Regions from separate parts of the Homo sapiens genome. Here all the other regions are reported to be linked to region 2. Evidence: microRNA targets listed by miRTarBase, many of them from high-throughput screens and not tested one by one. Region 2 holds a microRNA gene; each other region holds the end of a gene's coding sequence.

Region 1 (7,160 bases), not on the chromosome of region 2:
TATTTAGTGACAGTGTTTAAATTGAGCTAAGAATGTCTAACAGTATCTGAGTAGCTAAAGATTTGGAAAGTCTTGTCTTCTGCCATCCAACATTTGGTAAAGACATGGTTATTTTAGCCAGCATCCTTTTTTTTTTTTTTTTTTTTTTTGTATTGTTTTGTTGGAGAGAGTTTCACTCTTGTCGCCCAGGCTGGAGTGCAATGGCTCACTGCAACCTCCAACTCCCAGGTTCAAACAGTTCTCCTGCCTCAGCTTCCCAAGTAACTGGGATTACAGGCATGTACCACCACGCCCAGCTAATTTTTGTATTATTAGTAGAGACGGGGTTTCACCATGTTGGACAGGCTGGTCTCAAACTCCTGACGTCAGGTGATCCGCCCACTTTAGCCTCCCAAAGTGCTGGGATTAAAGGCATGAGCCACTGTGCCTGGCCTCTTTTTCTGAATATAAGTGAATTTTAAAAATCTGTCACCTGTGAAAGTAGACTAAATTCCAAGTCGTCAAAGTTCTGAATAAGCTGCCTACCTGGACTGCTGATCTGTAGTTCATCTAGCTCAAGGGAAAGCTAAGAAACAAAACAATCCTGTCTTTTAAAAAGGTTTGGGAAAAGCAGGGTATAGACGGGGCCACAGAGCACCCTTAAATGTTGAACTATAATGACACCTAAGTCATCCCTGTATTTGGCAAGTTTCCATGAAAGGGTGGTTCAAAATGACTCTTAATTATGTTTTTGGGTTTTTTCTAAAAGGCCATCTCAGAATTTTTTTTTTTTTTTTTTTTAGTTTGAAAGCAGCCTGTCCAACATGGTGAAACCTCATCTCTACTAAAAACACACAAAAAATTAACCAGGCATGGAGGTGCACACCTGTAATCCCAGCTACTCGGGAGGCTGAAGCAGGAGAATCGCTTGAACCCGGGAGGAGGAGGCTGCAGTGAGCCAAGGTTGTGCCACTGCACTCCAGCCTGGGCGACAGAGCAGACTGTCTCAAAAAAACAAAACAAAAACCTTTATGAATGCTCTTCAATGGCTGCCAGGTTTGCTTTTTTTTGGCATTTTGTTGTTAGGTTAGGAGGCTATCAAGAAATATGCAGAAAGCTAAATAGATCCCTTCCCTTCTCCTGTTCTCAAACTTACACTATTTCTAATAACCAAGTGAGTTAAGTGGGTTTTAAAATAGATTACTCCTCACAATGTTTCTTTCCTTCCACTTACCTGGCATGTGTAATCCCAAAGAATCTTTTAAATTTTGTGGTGAAAAATCCCATTTCTGTTCATTTGGATTTCCATTCATTATTTACTAGGCATTTAACTATGCTCTATGCTGGGGAATCCGATGGTCAGTAAGACATGCCTTGGGAGCTGTCTGGTAGGAAAGATGGACAAGTCACCAGGAAGTGACAGTAGACATTGGTAAATGCCATAGGAATATCCCAGGAATGGAGATACCAGCATCATCAACATGGGGCACAGAACCCTGGACCTGGGCCGGCTACATTAAGACTCTCTCAATGAGATGGTAAAATCAGGGACTATTTTGTTCATCCAGCTATCTGGGGTGGTAAGCACAGTTGCCCAAGGCATAGGGAGCCCCGCAGGAGGACAGCTGAAGAGGAAGGCACATTTGGGGGAAGGATGGCACATGAGGTGAGATCGGAGTTAATCAGGCCAGATTATGAGGGCCTCGGATGCCATACGAGGGACATGATGTTTCAGATCAATTCCTCAGGCAGCTGTGTGGATTGGCGATGGGACCTGCAATAACTCTGGGTTACCTAAAATAGTGGCAGTGAGGCTGGAAAGAAGTGGGACAGGAGGAAGTCATCAGCTACAGGTGGCTGCTGAAAGCAGAGAGGGAGAAATCACCCAGGAAGAATGGAGACACCAGGGGAAGCTTCTAGATAAAACAGCATCTCTTGGCTGAGCTAAAAGAGGAGCAAATTTGTCTTTTCTCTTTATGAGACAGGGTCTCACTCTGTTGCCCAGGCTAGAGTATAGCAGTGCCATCACGCCTCACTGCAGCCTCGAAGTCCTGGGCCCAAGCGATCCTCCCACCTCAGCCTCGTGAGTAGCTATGACTACAGGTGTGCTCTACATCCAGCCAATTTTTTCACATTTTTGTTGAGACGGGGTCTTCTGACCAGGCAGGGTGGCTCACGCCTGTAATCCCAACACTTTAAAAGGCCGAGGAGGGTGGATTACTTGAGGCCAGGAGTTCGAGACCAGCCTGGCCAACATGGCGAAACCCGTCTCTATGAAAAATGCAAAAATTAGCTGGGTGTGGTGGCGCATGCCTGTAACCACAGCTGCTTGGGAGGCTGAGGCATGAGAATTGCTTGAACCTGAGAGGCATTCCAGCCTGGGCAATAGAGACTAACAAAACAGACAAGTTCTGGAACTCCTAGCCTCAGGTGATCCTCCCACCCCTTGGCCTACCCAAAGTGCTGGGATTACAGGTGAGCATGGCACCTGGCTTAAGGAGTTCTGGCAGAGGCCCTACTCCCTGCCCTGCATCCTGTCTCCCATGGCCTCTGGCTCTAGCCCAAGCTTGTCCAACCTGTGGTCCAGGGCAGCTTTGAATGTGGCCCAACACAAACTTATAAGCTTTCTTAAAACACCATGATTTTTTTTTTTTTTTTTTTTTAGCTCATCAGCTATTGTTAGTGTTAGTGTATTTTATGTGTGGCTGAAGACAATTTTCTTCTTCCAGTGTGGCCCAGGGAAACCAAAAGATTGGACACACCTGCTCTAGCCAACGTTCATTCCAGCCCTCCTGTGTCAATCTGCTCTTCAACTCAGCCTTTCAACACACTCAGGTCCTGCTTATCTGGGCAGTTTGTGGCAGGAGCTGTGGAGGCTAGGGCATACCCCCTTCCACCCTCTCCAAAGCATTACTTTTACTATTAATATAATAACTTTGGAGGTGGCAAAGAGAAATTTATGTTAGAGCAAAACTACAAAAACTCTCATAGATCTGATACTGATGACTTGTACACTTCAGATCATTATCAGTGATGTAGAATACAACGTATTCTCAGCTAGCACGTTCTGCTACCAATTAGCTGCTTTTTACAGTGCTAACGTACACATTCTGTCACCTTAACACAGCTGGTTTCTCTAACAAGCCTTCATGTTTCGCACGTCAGCACCACCACCACTGGGCTCCTCTCACGAACCTGTTGTAACGGGCCTCCCAGGTGACTGCTATCTCCTGACGCTGGGCCCACCACCACCTGGAAGCCCTCAGGCGCTGACACTACCACAGGGATTTTCTTCACCTGGAATCTGAAGCAAATGTGCATTCTTCTGGCAGGGAAGCCTGCGGCCCTAGACATCCTCAAAGACGTTAACAACAAAAAACCCACAGCTTTAGACTCAATAAATTCAGCAGAGTTCACTTCTCCAAACATACGCCAAGCCAAAGTTTTCTCCAAGCCCTTTAATATTCACTTAAACAGTTGAGGCACAAGCAATAATAAAACTGCATTTTTTACGTTACAAAAAGATTTTGTATGTTATCTGCATGATATACCAATTTTCTCAATCTCTTCTGCAATAACATCTCATTAACACTCTGGTCCACATGTTGATTTAATAAAGTCAGAATGGCAGGTGGGAGGATGGTAAAATAAACTTACCAAGGGGCAAAAGGAACCAAACATTTACTGAGTGCCGACTATGCAAGCTCTACTAGGTTTTACACACTTTACATAAACGTGAACCTAAGTTCTAGTTATCAGTTAACAGGCCAGCATTGCTACAGCCAGTAAGTCTATGTTTTCAATGTTCTTTCGCTTTTAAGTACAAATTGTGGAACAAAACTATATCTTTGCCCAAAGAAGCACATCAACTGTTGCACTAATACATTATTTTCCATTTCCAAAGTTTTTTAGTAAGTGTGCAACATTAGCACATGGAAACGCTCAAGCTGTGTATTAGTTCACTGAGATCTGGGGTTTTTTTGTTCTCACCTGCTGAGCACCATTTGGCCAGCATCACTACAACAAGCTGATTACATCACCTTGTAAAACTTAAGATGGGGATGAATAGTGTTTGGCAATTACATTTCTGGGAGAAAAAACTGCTGATTTTTTCTTTAACTCGACACAGCTAGCTTTAAAAAGTGGTACCTCATTTTAAAGCACCAAAGTTGTCATTTAAATAAGAAAACGTACTTGGGTTAATGAACTGTAAAATGAAGATACCAACGCCTTTTCAAGCATTACAGCAAAGCCAGTATGTTCAGAGCCAAGTGACACCCAGCTCATACTGCACTCCAGTTCCCAAGGAAACGGCGTTTCTACCCTCCCCAAACTTAAGCTGCCCCTCACTCCTCCAGCCAGCCCTCCTTTTTCTGAGCCCATTCTTTCCTTGCTGAGCTATCTGCCCCTTGCTCCCTTTCCCACCCCTGTTCTCCCTCTAACTGCCCCTCTATACATGTCTGGGCTGCTGCCTAAGACTTCTTAGCTGCCTGGTTAGTCACTGACCAATCACCACTACACTGCTTTGGATTTGGGATCCCACTAGTAAAACTAACTGGCATGTCTGTACTGGTCATCCCCCCAAAAAAGCCCTCCTGTGTAACAAAAAAGCACTGTTTAAGGGTTCAGGATCACAAACCCTCAAGATACCCGAGAAAAGTCCTCAAATGTGAGTCGCCTAGTCTAACAGTAGAGGTAAGTTCAAAGATGAAATGTGATTTGTTCAAGGCTGTGCGGCTAATCAGAGGCAGAAACTAGACCTATTTCTCCTTCCACTGCACCACAAAAAAACCGAGATTGATAATGATTAAGAAGAGTTTGTAAGTCAATCAAAATAAAATGCCTAGTACATAGGAAAAGTCTTTGGGATTTCTCCAGACTTTTAGACAGAACAAAGGCAATCTTTACAATGAGAAATGCTCCTCAGTTCAACAGATGCCACCAAGTACCAAGGATCCTTACTCAGTTCTGAAACTGTGACTACGGAGAATATGTCACTATTTGAGAATAAGAGGTCCCACCTGCTCCACTCTTTTCAAGTTTTCAGTCACAAGGTTGCAACTTACTCTCATCGTTTCACAAGATAATCAAGTTGAAGCAGGATTAAGGAGGTACACTGAAGATAAAGCAAAAGGCAACAAGCATTTTTACAAGCAGATCATCCCAGTTACCTTAAAAGTTTCGGATTAATTTACAGAGTAGTGACAGAACCATATAATTTCAGTGAAAATCAAGATAGTTATACCATTAAAAAAAACATCAATTCAGAAATACTAAGTCAGGCAAGCATGCAAAATTCAGAATATAAAAAAATGCAGGGCCTGGTTGCCCACATACATTCCTCAGGTTAAGGTGGATTTAAAGATGCCCAACAGAACCCAATGAATCAGAAGCTAAAAGGGACACTTCAGTGATCAGCAGACGCATTCTCTCACGTAACAAATGGAGGGAAAGTGAGCACACATTAACTAGCGAAGCTCACAAGGCTAGATTAGGGGTGTACAGAAATCTAATTCCTGGTGCTATTTGCAACTACATATATTTAAAATACAAGGAGATAAATACCCAGAACACATTAAGCCTACTGATTTAAACAGAACATTTCAAGACTGCTACACAGAAAGGGAAGGAAGCTGTTAACCCAGCACAGCAGCACACCTCACATATTTACGTCTCAGAGATTAAATGGAAAGAAAGGATCAATCAAAACCTTTAATGCTCAGTTTTCACAAACACAGTCAAGTCTATCAAATTTCCAGATTTACAGCAAAATGTGCCCTCTAAAAAAGTGTACATTCTTCAGTTTCTCCTATACTTTTTTTTTTTTGCCTATCTTTCAAAACTGAGCACTGGGTATTTTTAACATAAGCCATGTCATATGTACAGTTTAACTATGTAACTATGTTTCAGGAATAAACAAAATCCATGATATTTTAGTAACTCATAGTGTATTTATAGAATGAAAAGTTCTCTATCAAAATACACTTTTCACTGGGAAAAATAAATAAAATAGACAAATGGATCTACACAAAGTAAACATTAACTTTGGTAGATTTCAGTGTAGTTCATAACAAGCATATTTGCCCTTATTCCCCCAGAGCTGCTCAACTACCAAGAATTTTTAAAATATTTTTAACTGAGATTTTATTATGTTGACATTTGTTTCTCATTCCACATCATCTTCAGCCAAGCTCTGAGCACTTACAATTCTCTGAAAGAAAAAAAAAATAATTTTTTAAAGTGTCATAAGCATTTAATTAGGATTCTAACTTCAAAATAAAATGCTCTTTGTATTCAAAGAATTGAATCTTAGTAAAGTTCACCCATTCTGACATTTAATTCAAAATGTAACACTTTACACACAGTCGGCATCCAAGAAAACAATGATCATACTACTGACAATCCCATTTCAAAAGTCAAGTTAACAAAGGAGGCAGATCATTACATTATATATGTTTTTAATTCAGATGGGGTCTCTGTAACCCAGGCTGGAGTGCAGTAGCACAATCTCAGCTCACTGCAACCTCTGACTCCTGGGCTCAAGCGATCCTCCCCCACCTCAGCCTCCTGAGTAGCTGGAACCACAGACTCATGCCACCATGCCCGGCTAATTTTTTTTTTATTTTTGGTGCAGACAGGGTTTTACCATGTTGCCCAGGCTGGCCTTGAACTCCTGAGCTCAAATGAGTGCTAGGATTATAGGGCATGAGACACTGTGTACAGCCATCATTACATAATATTACATCAGTCAATTATGTAACTAAAACCAAAAAGATTTTAAGATCTCTTTTCACTCCCAGGCAAACCAAGAACACTGATAATTGAGTGAAGGAGGTCATTTTTAAGGAATTAGGCTTCATAGTGAATTCACAAATATTCCAAAAGACATCACCCTCAGGCCAATTTTCCAAAAGTACTATACTATGCTGCCTTTCAAATAGCGTAATATTAAACCGATGATTCCAGTATGAATCCTCTAGAACTAGAACCACATTAGTCTAAATAAAAACAATTTAGACAAAGTCCTTGGTTGTCCAACTTGTTCCCTCAAGTCGTTGGGATCTTTACTTTCTTTCCAGTCCTTTTCTAATTCAGTTGAGTAAAAATCAGTTTGAAAAATTAACCAGTCAGTTACTAACTATAAAGTTCTGTAAATACTTCCTATCATCATTCACTGTTTT
Region 2 (7,196 bases):
CAGGCTCATTAAGGAGTAGAGGTTTCCCTGCTCATTTCTGGTTGTTCTTTTGGGGTATCCACTGTGTGGAGTTTGCAGAGATCTTAATAAAAATATCAACCTACATTTATATACTGACAAACAAATAGCCAAGAGCCATTTAGGACACACAGCTTGGAGTCTGTTTATCTCTCTCCACCTATCTACACACCCATGGAGAACCCATTTAAACTTCAGATCAAACCAGGCTCCCTTTAGATGGTTGGAATTGTCAGGTTCCTGAGCCAGGTGAAGTTCCTAAATCAGTTTCTGTCTTAGTCCATGTTGTGTTGCTATGACTGAATACCACAGACTAGATAATTTATAAAGAAAAGAAATTTATTTCTTACAGTTCTGGAGGCTGGGAAGTCCAAGGGTGAGGGGCTTGCATCTGGTGAGAGACTTCTTGCTGTGTCATCCCATGGCAGAAGGTGAAGGGCAAGAGAGAGTATGCGTGCATGTGTGTGCATATATATGCATATGCATACATGTGTGTGCACATGCAGGGGAAAGATACGGAGCCAAACTCATCCCTTTTATTAGGATCCCACTACCAAGATAATGTTGTTAAGTTCTCATGAGGTGCCACCTCTCAACACTGTTGCATTGGAGATTCAGTTTCTAACACATGAACTTTGGCGGGGCAAGTCAACCATAGAACCTACCAGATACATGACTTTGAGTCATGTACTATTATATTATTATTTATTATTATTATTGTTATTTTGATACTGGTCCATGGCCCAGGGATTGGGGATCCCTGCCCTAAATCGTGAGGAAGATTGAGGCCCATGGGTGCCACTGGTTGGTAGCCGTCAGCTTCTTACCACCTACCGGCACCTCCATAGTCATCTTGACCTCCTTGCCCAGCTTCCATCTCTGTCTTAGCAAATATGTTTTCCCTCCCCCAACTCATGTGAGACTTACCCTCACTCCTGCTCTGGACTCCAGCCTCTTGATCCTTCATGCTTATCTCCCCTGTTTAGTCTGTCTACAGCTTCTCTCTGTATCAACAAAACTCCTATGGTTTCAAATAGGAATCTGATTTAAACTGACTTTTAAGCAAAAAATAATGATAGTTAGTATTCAGATGTAGATGGATCATCTACATCTGGTCCCAAACAATGCCAGCAGGGAAACATTTATCTATATCCCTTAGGATTACTTTCCCCACTGTGTTGACTTCATTCTTCATTCTCAGAAGGCTTTCTTGGGCACATAGCAACTCCCAATTTATGTCCCATTATCTCTGCAACTTCTACCAAAGAAAAGGGCTTCCTTTTTATAAAATCCCAGCAGCCTAGGACTCAATCTTTTTGGAAGATTATTGGGTCATATGCCCATCTCTAAGGGAATTGCTCACTGCACCAGGGGGATGGAATGTGCTGATTGACCGGGCCTGGGTCACCAGCCCCTCTTAGCCAGAGAGCTGGATCTAATCCAGACATTTTGAAAAAAGAGAAGGAATGTCCTATCTAAATCAGACATTTTGAAAGAAGAGAAGGAATATCTCCTTTAAGAAAAAAAAGCCACTGTCATGGCCGGGTGTGGTGGCTCACGCCTATAATCCCAGCACTTTGGGAGGCTGAGGCGGGTGGATCATGAGGTCAGGAGATCGAGACCATCTTGGCTAACACGGTGAAACCCCATCTCCACTAAAAAATACAAAAAATTAGCTGGGCGCGGTGGCGGGCACCTGTAGTCCCAGCTACTCGGGAGGCTGAGGCAGGAGAATGGCGTGAACCCAGGAGGCGGAGCTTGCAGTGAGCTGAGATAGCGCCACTGCAGTCCAGCCTGGGCAAAAGAGCGAGACTCCGTCTCAAAAAAAAAAAAAAAGAAAAAAAGAAAAATAAAGCCACTGTCACTAGAAGAAAAGACAATGCCTGCTGGCTGGGCAAAAACAGCAGCTGTCCTTTCTGACTCTATCCTGGCCTTCTCCTTTGTGCATAAACCTGCTATGTCTTTTTCATGTTAAAAATCCCCTACCTCAAACCTGGGAATCCTCCTTACTACTACTCTTACTACTGCTATGATTACTACCCTACCTTACTTTGCATACAAACACACTTTTGAAAGAGTTGCCAGTTCCTGCTATTTCCACTTGATGACAATTTATTGTTTCCTCAGTTTGGTGCAATCTGGCTTCTGCTCCCGCCATCCTATTGATATTTTTCTCATTGAGTCATCAATGACCTGAAAACTGCCTCTTCTCATAAGCTTGTCTCATCTTTCTTGACCTCACCATATTATTAGGTGCTCTAATCCTTTCTCCTTTAAAAAAATGTGAAAAAATAAAATATTCAAGCAGCATCAGAAGCTACAAAGTGAAATTAAGATTCCCCTCACCCATGGCTCCTAGCTAGGCTTCCTGGTTCTCCTTCCCAGAGACACCCATTGCAACCAGGTTCTTGTGTGACCTTCTAGAGAAGATGTGTTCAGGCCCAGAAATAGTCTACATCACACACAAGGATGTTAGCATGCTGTGTACAATTTCTGTATCTTGCATTATTCCCCTCTGTCTTGGAGATTGTTTCTTATCTGCTTATCTAACTCTACATCACCCTTTGAATAACTTCCTAGTTTCCTATATAAGTGAGTTTATCTGTAGGAAAAGTTCAGAGTGCCTTCTTTCTTTTTAAGCCCCTCTTCTCCTTCATTTTTATGACATTGTGTGTCTGTCTTAGTCTGTTTTGTGCTGCTATAAGAATACCTGAAACTGGGGCCTGGTGCAGTGGCTCATGCCTGTAATTCCAGCACTTTGGGAGGTTAACATGGGCAGATCACTTGAGCTTGAGCCCAGGAGTTTGAGACCAGCTTGGGGAACATGGCAAAATCTGTCTTTACACACACAAAAATTACAAAAATCAACCAGGTGGGGTGGCACATGCCTGTAGTCCCAGCTACTTGGGTGACTAAGGCAGGATTGCTTGAGCCTGGGAGGTCAAGGCTGCAGTGTCGTGGTCACAGCTTGCTGCAGACTCGACCTCCCAGGCTTAAGCAATCCTCCTGCTCGAGTGACAGAGTGAGACCCTGTCTCAAAAAAAAAAAAGTGGATAACTTACAATGAAAAGAAATTTATTTGGCTCATGGTTCTGGAGGGTGGGAAGTACAAGATCAGGGGCTGTATCTGGGGAGGACCTTCTTGCTGCATAGTAACCTGATAGAAGGCATCACATGGCAAGAGAACACATGAGGGAGGGTAACTTACTTTTTAAATAAATTCACTCCCACAATAATAACATCAATCCAGTCACCTCCAAAAGTTCCCACCTCTCAACACTGTTGCATTGGGGATTAAGTGTCCAGCACAAGAACTTTGGGAGAACACATTCAAACCATATCACCACATTTGCTGATGTTCTTCCTACCTTCACAGCCACTCCCAATAGAAATTCCAACTCCACAAAGACTTCCAGTGACAGTTGAATTTGGAGGGTTGAGACCAGCTCATGACCCAGAAAGGAAAACAGAAAGCTTACTTTTTGTTTTGTTACAAGTGCAGTCTCTTAAAAATAACCACAAAATGCCCCCCCAAATGGCATATGGAAAACAGCACAGAGATGGTGTGTTAATCTACCTGAAATGTCTTTCTAAGGAAGTGAGGCTTGGATGGGAACGGAAATGCATCCCTTTTTCTTCCCAGGGTACACGTCTTTTTCTCACTTCCTCTAACTGGGAGCCCCAGGGCCTGGCTTTGTCTTGTAGCTTCCTGCCGTGATGCACCAGGCTAAGTGGGAAGGTTTCTGTTCTATGTCTAAAGTAGCACTGGCAGGTCCTCATTCTGCTTGTAATTGGGATGGGAATATGGGTAGGAATTTAGGGTTTGGCAGAGCGTACAGGACCTCTTTCAAGCCAGAGCACAGCCCTGTCAGACTTACTCACTGGACATGAATGGGTCAGTCAGCCCTCAGCAGTAACCACCAGCTACCATGTTAAGTATTTGATGTGAATTTTATCAAGTCATTCTCGCCACACCCTACAAGAAACTTGAGCTTAGGGGACTTAGCTAACTTGCTTGAAGGTTGTATAGCTGGGAATTGTTGGAGCCAGGATTGGTACCCAGGTTAGCTTAACTTTTAAGTCCGTGCCACACAATCAGATACATAGTATGAGGCAATGGGATGTAATGGAAAGCCCATGGGCTTTGGAATTGAACAGATGGGCTCTGGATCTTGGCTCTCCTACTTGACCCTATATGACCCTGAACAAACTGTTAACTCTTAAAATTATCTGTTAAGTAGAGATAATCCTTTTCCTGCCTATCTCACAGCCTTGTGGGAATCAAAGCTATAAAAAGATAGGCAAATAGAAGGGATAATTACTATTTGAGGGTGAGTTTACTTGAAGCCAACAATGTGGGTTTAGGATGAATGGTGAAGAATAGATAAGAAAAAAAATGATATTCTGTTGACATGGGAAGATGTTTAGAGTGTATTTCATCTAGTTTCTTTTAAAAAGCAAGCAAAAGAACAGAGTCATGATTCCACCTTTGTCTAAAAACTAAAAAACATCCATTCATCTATTCATCCAGCCATCTAGGATACAAACCAAGATGTTAACATAATACAGAGATTTGGGGTGGCGGGATTAAGAAGGATTCTTTTGTGTGTTTTAAAATTTTTTATGGCCAGGCACAGAGGCTCATGCCTGTAATCCTAGCACTTTGGGAGGCCAAGGCGTGCAGATCACGAGGTCAGGAGTTCGAGACCAGCCTAGCCAACATAGTGAAACCCCGTCTCTACTAAAAATACAAAAATTAGCTGGGCATGGTGATGGGTGCCTGTAGTCCCAGCTACTTGGGAGGCTGAGGCAGGAGAATCGCTTGAACCCGGGAGGTGGAGGTTGCAGTGAGCCGAGATCGTGCCACTGCACACCAGCCTGGGCGACAAAGTGAGACTTCATCTCAAAAAAAAAATTATTATTATAATTCCTTTTTTTTTTTTTTTTTTTTTTAGAGACAGGGTCTTACTCTGTTACCCAGGCTGAAGTGAAGTGGAACAGTCATAGCTCACTGCAGCCTCCAGTTCCTGGGCTCAAGGGATTCCCCGTGCCTCAGCCTCTTGAACAGCTGGGACCACAGGCATGCACCACCATGCCTGGCCAATTTTTAAAAAATTCTTTGTAGAGACAGGTTCTCTCTATGTTGCCCAGGCTGGTCTCAAACTCCTGATCTCAAGTGATCCTTCCACCTGGGCCTCCCAAAGTGCTGGTATTATAGGCATGGCACCACCATGCCTGGCATCTTGGTGCTTTTTAATAGCTTGTTTGTTTCTGCGATAAATGTAGGAGACTGATAGAAGAGTCTGGATCTCTTGTCAAATCTAGGATCAAATCGTGGTCAGATACTTAAACTAAACCCATTTTCTCATTGCACAGCAAGGACTTCATAGAGCTTTTGGGGGGATTAAAGGAGGTAAAGCTTGCAAAACACTTAACACAGTATCTGGCTCATAGTTAGTGCTTAACATACACTATTATTTGTCCATTTGATTTTTTTTCATCCCTGGGTTCTAGAAACGCAGTGGTGAATAAAACAGATGTGATTTTGCTCTCATGTGGCTTACAGTCTAGATGAGAACATAGACAATCAACAGAGAATGAACATGTATTAATAATTATAGACTGAGATATACCAGATTTTATTTCTGTTAAAGAAATGAACAGGATATCTTGACAGAGAATAACAGGAGGGAAGAATGAGAATCCTCTTTATTTGAAGGTGGTCTGGAACAGCTTCTCTGACAGGGTGCCATTTAAACTGAGATCTGGAGGAAATCAAAACACTGGATGTTATTTTTTAATGAAAATTAAGAAAAGCAAGAGCAAAACAAAACAGACTTAGTATCAAACACAAAAGACCCCTCTCCTACTGACTTCCTCCCTAAATAAACATAAGAGATAAAAGATCCCTGATTGTAAGGGACCTTCATTATTAGCAGAAAAAGGAGACTTAAATCTCTCTTTTTTTCTGCCAAAACCCAGACCACAAATGACTTTTTAAAATGATCAAATATGTATGCAGCTTTGAGCATCTGATTCTCCCTGGAGTGGGTCCCTCCTGTATTCGGCTGTGGGAAACTGGAAGGCATAGGAACGACCCTGCATTTCACTGGATGTGCACATGTGAAAAAGAAAGATGCGCTTGTCTTTTTGCCTAGGCTATGTAGCTTGGATGTCTTTTCATCGTGACCTTCTGGTCTTGTTAACCTGAAGGTGTCCTGGTGTCTTGATGGAGGCTGGGCAGGTAGCTCCCCTGAGCCACTAGCCTCATGTTATCAAAGTCGGCTAGGCAACAGACAGCAGGGAGGAGCCTTATCCTCTCCTCCACCATCTTACCTTGTCCATGCCCTCTTTTTACCTCCATTTCTTCTCCAGGCTCTTTCCTTTCCTCCTCCAAAGAAGCAATGTCTCTCTTGCAGGTCCCACTCAAGTGAGATGTCACTCCCTCCAGACAGAGTTCCTGGCCCTTCTTGGGTTCCTTTCCTCTGTGCTCAATGGCAGCACCTGTCCCATGGTCCCATGCAGTGGCCTGTGTGTGCATCTGTGTCCTCTGCTAGATCTTAAGCTCAACGGGGACAAGAACAGGTACCCTCTTATGTATCGCCAGAGTCCAGCATGCTGCTCGGCAGAGGATCTACAACAGCCAAATATTAGCCTTCCTTATTATCCCTTAGCACCAAAATACACGTCAAAGCAGCCACTTGTTTTAGAGTTTTTTTGCTTCATTTTGTTTTGAGACAGGGTCTCACTCTGTCACCCAGGCTGAAGTGCAGAGGCACGATCATAGCTTGCTGCAGTCTAAACCTCCTGGGCTCAAGTAATCCTCCAACTTCAGCCTTCCAAGTAGCTGGGACTACAGGCATGTGGCGTCATGCCCTGAGAAGTTTTAAATTTTTGTAGAGACAGGGTCTTGCTATGTTGCCCAGGCTGGTCTCACACTCCTAGCCTCAAGCGATCCTCCTGCTGCCTTAGAGTGTTTTACTAAGATGAAGCATGTTAAAGTAGCATCAGGCTAACCTTAACAATTTACCCAAATACTCCCATTCTCTTTATTTCTATTTTTCAATTTCTTCCATGATAATTGCTGTCTCATTTAAAATAGCTTTCACAGCTTCTTTTCTTATTACAAAATAATAATAACAATACCTGATTGTTATGTAAATTTTTAAAATATAATC
Region 3 (7,196 bases), not on the chromosome of region 2:
GCTCACGCCTGTAATCCCAGCATTTTGGGAGGCCAAGGTGGGCGGATCACTTGAGGTCAGGAGTTCGAGACCAGCCTGGCCAACATGGTGAAACCCCGTCTCTACTAAAAATACAAAAATTAGCCAGGTGTGGTGGTGCACGCCTGTAGTCCCAGCTACTCGGGAGGCTGAGGCATGAGAAACGTATGAACCCAGGAGGTGGAGGCTGCAGCGAGCTGAGATTGAGCCACTGCACTCCAGCCTGGGTGGCAGAGTGAGACTCTGTCTCAGAAAAAAAAAAAAAAAAAAAAAGATGAGGTTTTGCTATGTTACCCAGGCCAGTGTTGAACGCCTGGGCCCAAGCCTCAGCCTCCCAAAGTGCTGGAATTACAGGAATCAACCAACTCGCCTGACACTGGATTTGCTTTTTTTATTTTTTCGAAACAGTCTTGCTCTGTCTCCCAGGCTAGAGTGCAGTGGTGCAATCTCAGCTCCCTGTAACCTCCACCTCCTGAGTTCAAATGATTCTCCTGCCTCAGCCTCCCGAGTAGCTGGCGTTACAGGCGCCTGCCACCACGCCCAGCTAATTTTTATACTTTTAGTAGAGATGAGGGTTCACCATGTTGGCCAGGCTGGTCTCGAACCCCTGACCTCAAGTGATCCACCAGCCTCAGCCTCCCAAAGTGCTGGGATTACAGGCATGAGCCACTGCACCCAGCCAGGAGTTGCTTTTTGATTATAGAGGGTATCAGGACACGTCAGGGTGGAAACTTTCCCAAGGCAAAGCCTCCACAATCTAGCATCGAATTGTAAATCAGGACACCATTGGAGCCAAAAAGTAACTCAAAGTAACCACGCTCATAAGAGATTGATGCAACTAATGCAATTATTTGCATAGCAATTTATTAATTTATAATCAGGATAGTGTTTCAAGGCCATAAAATATCAATGTATCCCATCCAGAAAAGCCCCTTCCCTGTCCTGGAGGACAAAGAAATCATTAGCAAGTAGCTTGGTAGACATGGAGTCCGTCTTGAGGACCATTTCCCTGGGCCACGGTAAAGTCTGGCGAAGCACCACTGTGCTAAGCAGACTCCTACCAAATGGAGCATCTGGCAATCTCTGCTTTTTTTTTTTTTAACCTCTGCATTTTTGAACGTCCTTTTTTTAGGGTCTTAATTGACCATTCTTCTTTGATTCACATCATCTTTATGTTGCCCACACTCCAATTCTCTGCCTACTTACTCAGTTGTAATCACAATCCAGTCCTGCCTTCCTCAAGTTTCACTGGCTCACCATGGTAGCAATTCGTGTGTGGTCCCAAATTCTTCCAAGCGTCCACTACATCCTGCCCCACCTGGGAGCTGACCTCACTCTTCCTGTATGGGCTTGACTAGTTAATCCACAGAAACAGCCATGTTTCCCTAATGGTCAAGTTCTTGGGCAGCCTTCATAGACACTATCTATCTATCTATCTGTCTATTTATTTATTTATTTATTTTTTAAGACGGAGTCTTGCTCTGTCACCCAGGCTGGAGTGCAGTGGCACGATCTTGGCTCACTGCAAGCTCCGCCTCCCGGGTTCATGCCATTCTCCTGCCTCAGCCTCCTGAGTAGCTGGGACTACAGGCGCCCGCCACCACGCCCGGCTAATTTTTTTTATTTTTAGTAGAGATGGGATTTCACCTGCCTCGGTCCCCCAAAGTGCTGGGATTACAGGCGTGAGCCACCACGCCCGGCCTCATAGACACTATCAAGTATTACCAAAAGGGACACTCACTCAAACCATCATGAATGTATACCAGTGGCCAAAGAAAAGGTGTATGACTTAGAATCAATTCATATCAACCTCAACAGATATTTAAGGAATAGATTCCTCACATGAGTTTGTCATATTTCTTTTTCTTTAAAAACTCAAGGCAGACAACATTTTTGTTAATCAAGGCATTCAGTTAAGATGGCAAATTGAGTTTTGCAGATATGACTTTTTTTTTTAATTAAAAATTTTTTTTTGGCCGGGTGTGTTGGCTCACGCATATAATCCCAGTAGTTTGGGAGCCCAAGGTGGGCGGATCACCTGAGGTCAGGAGTTTGAGACCAGCCTGGCCAATATGGTGAAATCCTGTCTCTACTAAAAACACAAAAATTAGCCGAGTGTGGTGGTGGGTACCTGTAATCCCAGCTACTAGGGAGGCTGAGGCAGGAGAATCACTTGAGTCCAGGAGGTGGAGGTTGCAGTGAGCCAAGATTGTGCCACTGCATTCCAGCCTGGGCAGCAAGAATGAAACTGTCTCAAAAAAAAAAAAAAAAAAAGAAGAAAAGAAAGAAAAAAGAAAATTTTTTTTTTTTGTAGAGAGGAGGTCTCAATATGTTGCCCAGACTGGTCTTGAACTCCTGAGCTCAACCACTCCTCCTACCTCGGCCTCCCAAAGTGCTGGGATTACAGGCGTGAGCCACCATGCCCAGCCAGCAAACATGACTTCTAGAAGTACAGACTCTGACAAAATTCTGCATTGTTTCTCTAGCTCACTATCTATACCTTTGCCTCTTGGGTTTTTATCTAATTACATTTAAATGCTCTGCTCTTATTTTCTGCTTGTGTTTAGCTCCTTCCAACTGTGTTTTCCTCAGTCTCGATGTATTTTCATCCTTTGCGCCTGTTTTTATGACTCTATGATGGAGACTTCTCACAATCCCTCTCATTTTTTTTTCACACCTGTATTTTTCCTCCTCTTTTCATTTCTGGGTTCCTGCCTCTTCTTTGTTCTTTGGATATTCAATTTTTTTTTTTGAGACGGAGTCTCACTCTGTCACCCCTGCTGGACTGCAGTGGCACTATCTCGGCTCATTATAACAACCTCGGCCTCCCAGGTTCAAACGATTCTCCTGCCTCAGCCTCCTCAGTAGCCGGGATTACGGGCGCCTGCCACCACGCCCGGCCAATTTTTTGTATTTTTAGTAGAGATGGTGTTTCACCATGTTAGCCAGGATGGTCATCTCCTGACCTCGTGATCCGCCTGCCTCGGCCTCCCAAAATGCTGGGATTACAGGCGTGACCCACCATGCCCAGCCTGGATATTTAAATTGTTCTGTGCTCTCCTCCTTTTTTTTCTCTCTGTGATTCTCTTTGTCAGCTCCTTTGCCTATATTTGCATCTCAGTTGACACCCCTGATTCTGACTTGTCCTTATCTTCCTACCAGTCTCTGCCGACCGGTTACTGTCAGCCTGTCTTTAGGGTTTGCGCTGCAGCTGTTTGTCCTTTGTCTTTCTGCCTGCCTCCAAGTCCCCATATCTCCTGGTCTCTTCTGTCAGTGAATCTTCCCACTGACTGCCTCCTCCGCCTTCTGCTTCTCAGCTCCCCGGACTCGTCCCCGCTCTTCTCTGTTCCCACCTCTCCTCTTGCTCTTCTGATCTCTCTATCTGCCAGTATTTCCTCCATCACTCCTGAGCCTGGGTGTTTCTCCTTGTCACTCACTCTATTTCACTGTCTAGACTCTCTGTGCCTTTCAGCCTTGGGGTCTCTTCTTGTCGGCCTTCATTTCTATTTTTCTGGTCCTTTTTGTTTATAACCCTTTTATCAGTTCTGTGACTTTGGTGTCTCTCAGGATCTATGACAGCCTTTCTCCATATTTCTGCTAGGGCCTGTCTCTTTTGCCCTCCATCCTTCTTTGCCTCTGTCACCTCTATGTGAATAATCCTTCTCTCTTTCTATCTATCACTCAATCTATGTATGTCTGTCTCTGTCATTCTTCGTATCTTTCTGTACCTCCGCTTCTTAGCAAGGTTTTTGTTTTGTTTTGTTTTTTTTTGAAGACAATCTTCCTGTCTCTTGCTTTTGCTCATGTAGCTTTTCTGTGGATGGCTAAGGGTTGCCTCTCTCAGTCCATTGTTTAGTGGAACAGCAGACTTAATCTGCTGGGCACTTCCCGTCACCTCGATGTTCTGGGAAGGAAGGGGTCTTGTTCAACAGAAAAAAACGCAGCAGAAGCAGCAGGGAGGAAGAAGACTTTATGAATGTATCTCAGAAAAGTCCCAGCTCTTCCTTTTTTTTTTTTCTTTAGAGACAAGAGTCTCACTCTGTTTGCCCAGGCTGGAGTGCAGTGGCACGACCTCGGCTCACTGCAACCTCTGCCTCCTGGGTTCAAGCGATTCTCCTGCCTCAGCCTCCTGAGTAGCTGGGATTACAGGCATGCACCACCATGCCCGGCTAATTTTGTATTTTTAGTAGAGACAGGGTTTCACCATGTTGACCAGGCTGGTCTTGAACTCCTGACCTCAGGTGATCCTCCCGCCTCGGCCTCCCAAAGTGCTGGGATTACAGGCGTGAGCTGCTGCGCCCAGCCAGAGGGCCAGCTATTCCTTTATCCTCCTGCAGCCTTCTCTCACACAGTCTACCTCTGCCCTTGTTCTTCCATGAAAGCCTGGGCCTGGGAAAACTCTGTACTGGGCACCTTTCCTTCTGTAATTCTAGACTTCAGTGCCGTCCTAAGAAGACAAACCAGCCCTGTGTTCATTCCTCTAAGAATCCGAATTGTCTTTGAAAAGTCAAAAGGGGTCGGGTACGGTGGCTCACGTCTGTAATCCCAGCACTTTGGGAGGCTGAGGTGGGTGGATCACTTGAGTGCAAAAGTTTGAGACCAGCCTGGGCAACATGGCAAAACCTGGTCTCTACAAAAAAATACAAAAATTAGCCTGGTGCAGTGGCGTGCACCTGTAGTCCCAGCTACTTGGGAGGCTGAGGTGGGAGGCAGGAGAATTGCTTGAGCCTGGGAGGCAGAGATTGCAGTGAGCCAAGATCAAGCCACTGCACTCCATCCTGGGCAACAGAGCAAGAACTTGTCTCAAAAAAAAAAAAAAAAAAAGAAAAGAAAAAAGAAAAGTCAAAAGATACTAAAAATAAAAATAAAAATAAAAGGCTAGACACAGCAGGACCAGGGTTAAGGAGAAAAACAGGAGTGTGCGCCTGTTCTCACGTCTGTAATCCCAGCACTCTGGGAGGCCGAGGCAGGTGGATTACTTGAGGTCAGGAGTTCGAGACCAGCCTGGGCAACATGGTGAAACCTCCTCTCCACCAAAAAATACAAAAATTAGCTGGGCTTGGTGGTGCATGCCTGAAGTCACAGCTACTCGGGAGGCTAAGGCAGGACAATCACTTGAACCCAGGAGGCTGAGGTTGCAGTGAGCCGAAATCGTGCCACTACACTCCAGCCTGGGTGACAGAGTAAGATTCCGTCTCATAAAAAAAAAGAAAAAGAAAAAGAAAAACAGGAGTGTGGCTTTGAGAACCAGAAACATCAGCAGCAATTGCTGTGGCCCAGGTTCTGTCTCTTGGCAACTATCACGTCCATCTCTGCTGCTACAGATAGCACCTCCTCTACCTTCCTCCCACTGCCAGAATTTGGTTATAGGTGAGATCTCTTTTCTCTCTGTCCCCACCCGCCCCATACCAGATCTCTCTGATCCTAGTGGGACTTCACCTTCCCCCATCTGTCCCTGGGTTAAAGCAAAGAGCTTCTGTCTCCACTGGCAGTTTCTTCCAGCTGCATGCCTCCTGCCACCCTTTACTGATAGCTCTAGCTGTACCTCTTGAGTTTATTTGCTGGAAAGGATGCTCATCTGATGACGGATTTCAGTGAACAGAAACCCAGGTTCCCACCCATCCAACATCAGCATTTCTTCTTAGATCCGAGGAAGGGGAAGGGATGTGAGTTAGCTGGAAGAGAAACTGAGATTCTGATGAGCAAGTCTGGCCCTCACCCTGATGGGGGACTGTGCATGGAAGACCCTCATCTCCTTGTCCTGGCCCCACCTCCCCCAGCGAGGGGCCCATGGCTTCTCTCTAGTCTTTCAGGCTGAGAGTCGAACTGTTGCTGGTGACAGGTCCATTGTCACGACGTGTCCTGGTCCCCCTGGTTTTCTCATGGCCAGGGCTGGGTGGATGGGGTCGAGACTGTAGGACATCATTGACCAGAATACGGATCCCCAATATGATGCTCATGATGCCCACAGTGACCAGCCCAATTCCACCCAGGGTGACCAGAGCAAGAGGAACCTGGTGGTGCTGCCGGAACAGCCACAGACTCATCCACCCCAGCGGGACCAGGCGGAAGAGGGCCAAGGTGGCCAAGGAGGCCCAGCTGGTCACGCTGAAGGCCAGGGATGGGGCCTGGCGAGAAAGCAACAGCAGCTTCCGCAGGTGCAAGCAGGCAGAGTTCAGTTCCAGGAGCAGAGACACCATGGAGAAGCCCACGTAGTGGCCAGACAGAACAGCGGTGCTGAGGCAGCTCACCACCTGGGAGCCAGGGTCACAGGTCAGAGGAACCCCATGACCTGCCAGCCATCATGTCCCAATAACCCAGGCCTGAAGAAAGAGGCTTCCACGCAGTCTGTGGGGCTCCCCAAACACCTGACCTTTATGCTTTTACCTTTATCCTGGGGCCCTGAGCAGCCTTGAAACAACCCTTCCATAGATGGAACCAGGCTTGGCCCAGGGAGGGGCTGTCTCACCCCCTAATACCCCCTTAACCTCCCATTCCTGGGCTTGCTTGCTTTTTTTTTTTTTTTTTTTTTTTTTCGAGACAGACTCTCACTCTGCCACCAGGCTGGAGTGCAGTGGTGTGATCTTGGCTCACTGCAACCTCTGCCTCCTGGGTTCAAGCAATTCTCCTGCCTCAGCTTCCAGAGTAGCTGGGACTACCGGTGCGCGCCACCACACCCAGGTAATTTTTGTATTTTTAGTAGAGACGGGGTTTCACTGTTAGTCAGGATGGTCTCGATCTCCTGACCTCGTGATCCACCCGCCTCGGCCTCCCAGTGTGCTGGGATTATAGGCATAAGCCACCGTGCCTGGCCTAGGGCTTTCATGCCCCATACCCACACCCTATACCAGGACACCCCCTTCTCAGAAAAGCTCCATATTCCACATTTCTGTGATCAGCTGGACACCTGTGGGGGCACCCAAACTCCTTAGGCTCACATGGTGGGTGCCCTGGCATGGTGGGTGCCCTTGTATGGTGAGTGCCCTGGCATGGTAGGTGCCCTGGCCTGGTGGGTATCTGGACTCCCCAGCTGTGGCCAGCAGCCACCTCCTCCCCCTAACTCAGCCTAAGACTGGGAGCCAAGCACCAGCTGGGGGCAGAGACTGTGGGAAATTATAGGACAGCAAAATGAAGAGAGGGCCGGGGGCGGTGGCTCATGCTTGTAATCCCAGCACTTT

The links. Region 2 holds the annotated microRNA hsa-miR-1273h-5p (CUGGGAGGUCAAGGCUGCAGU, at 2,952-2,972, shown strand). A microRNA usually pairs through its seed, bases 2 to 8, with sites in the 3' UTR of a target mRNA and lowers its output. Matches are read on the target gene's strand: a 7mer-m8 pairs with bases 2 to 8, a 7mer-A1 pairs with bases 2 to 7 and ends in A, and an 8mer does both.
Region 1: miRTarBase lists TOMM20 as a target of hsa-miR-1273h-5p. Seed matches in the 3' UTR shown: 7mer-m8 at 3,612-3,618.
Region 3: the mRNA of TLCD2 is a reported target of hsa-miR-1273h-5p. Seed matches in the 3' UTR shown: 7mer-m8 at 4,973-4,979, 7mer-m8 at 4,748-4,754, 7mer-m8 at 4,722-4,728, 8mer at 4,708-4,715, 8mer at 4,572-4,579 and 7mer-A1 at 2,031-2,037.

What each region holds. Positions count from the first base shown.
Region 1 is chr1:235,105,919-235,113,078 of GRCh38, forward strand. It overlaps TOMM20 (translocase of outer mitochondrial membrane 20), which reads right to left. Exons shown (of 5, transcript NM_014765.3): 5 at 3,423-6,190. The coding sequence ends at 6,146. Among named protein-coding and RNA genes, the nearest start is that of SNORA14B, 18 kb to the right of the region's middle.
Region 2 is chr16:24,200,197-24,207,392 of GRCh38, forward strand. It overlaps MIR1273H (microRNA 1273h), which reads left to right and starts at 2,920; the gene lies at 2,920-3,035. All of the region lies in intron 16 of PRKCB (protein kinase C beta), which reads left to right.
Region 3 is chr17:1,701,951-1,709,146 of GRCh38, forward strand. TLCD2 (TLC domain containing 2) reads right to left here. Exons shown (of 4, transcript NM_001164407.2): 4 at 866-6,272. The coding sequence ends at 5,820. Among named protein-coding and RNA genes, the nearest start is that of TLCD2, 4.8 kb to the right of the region's middle.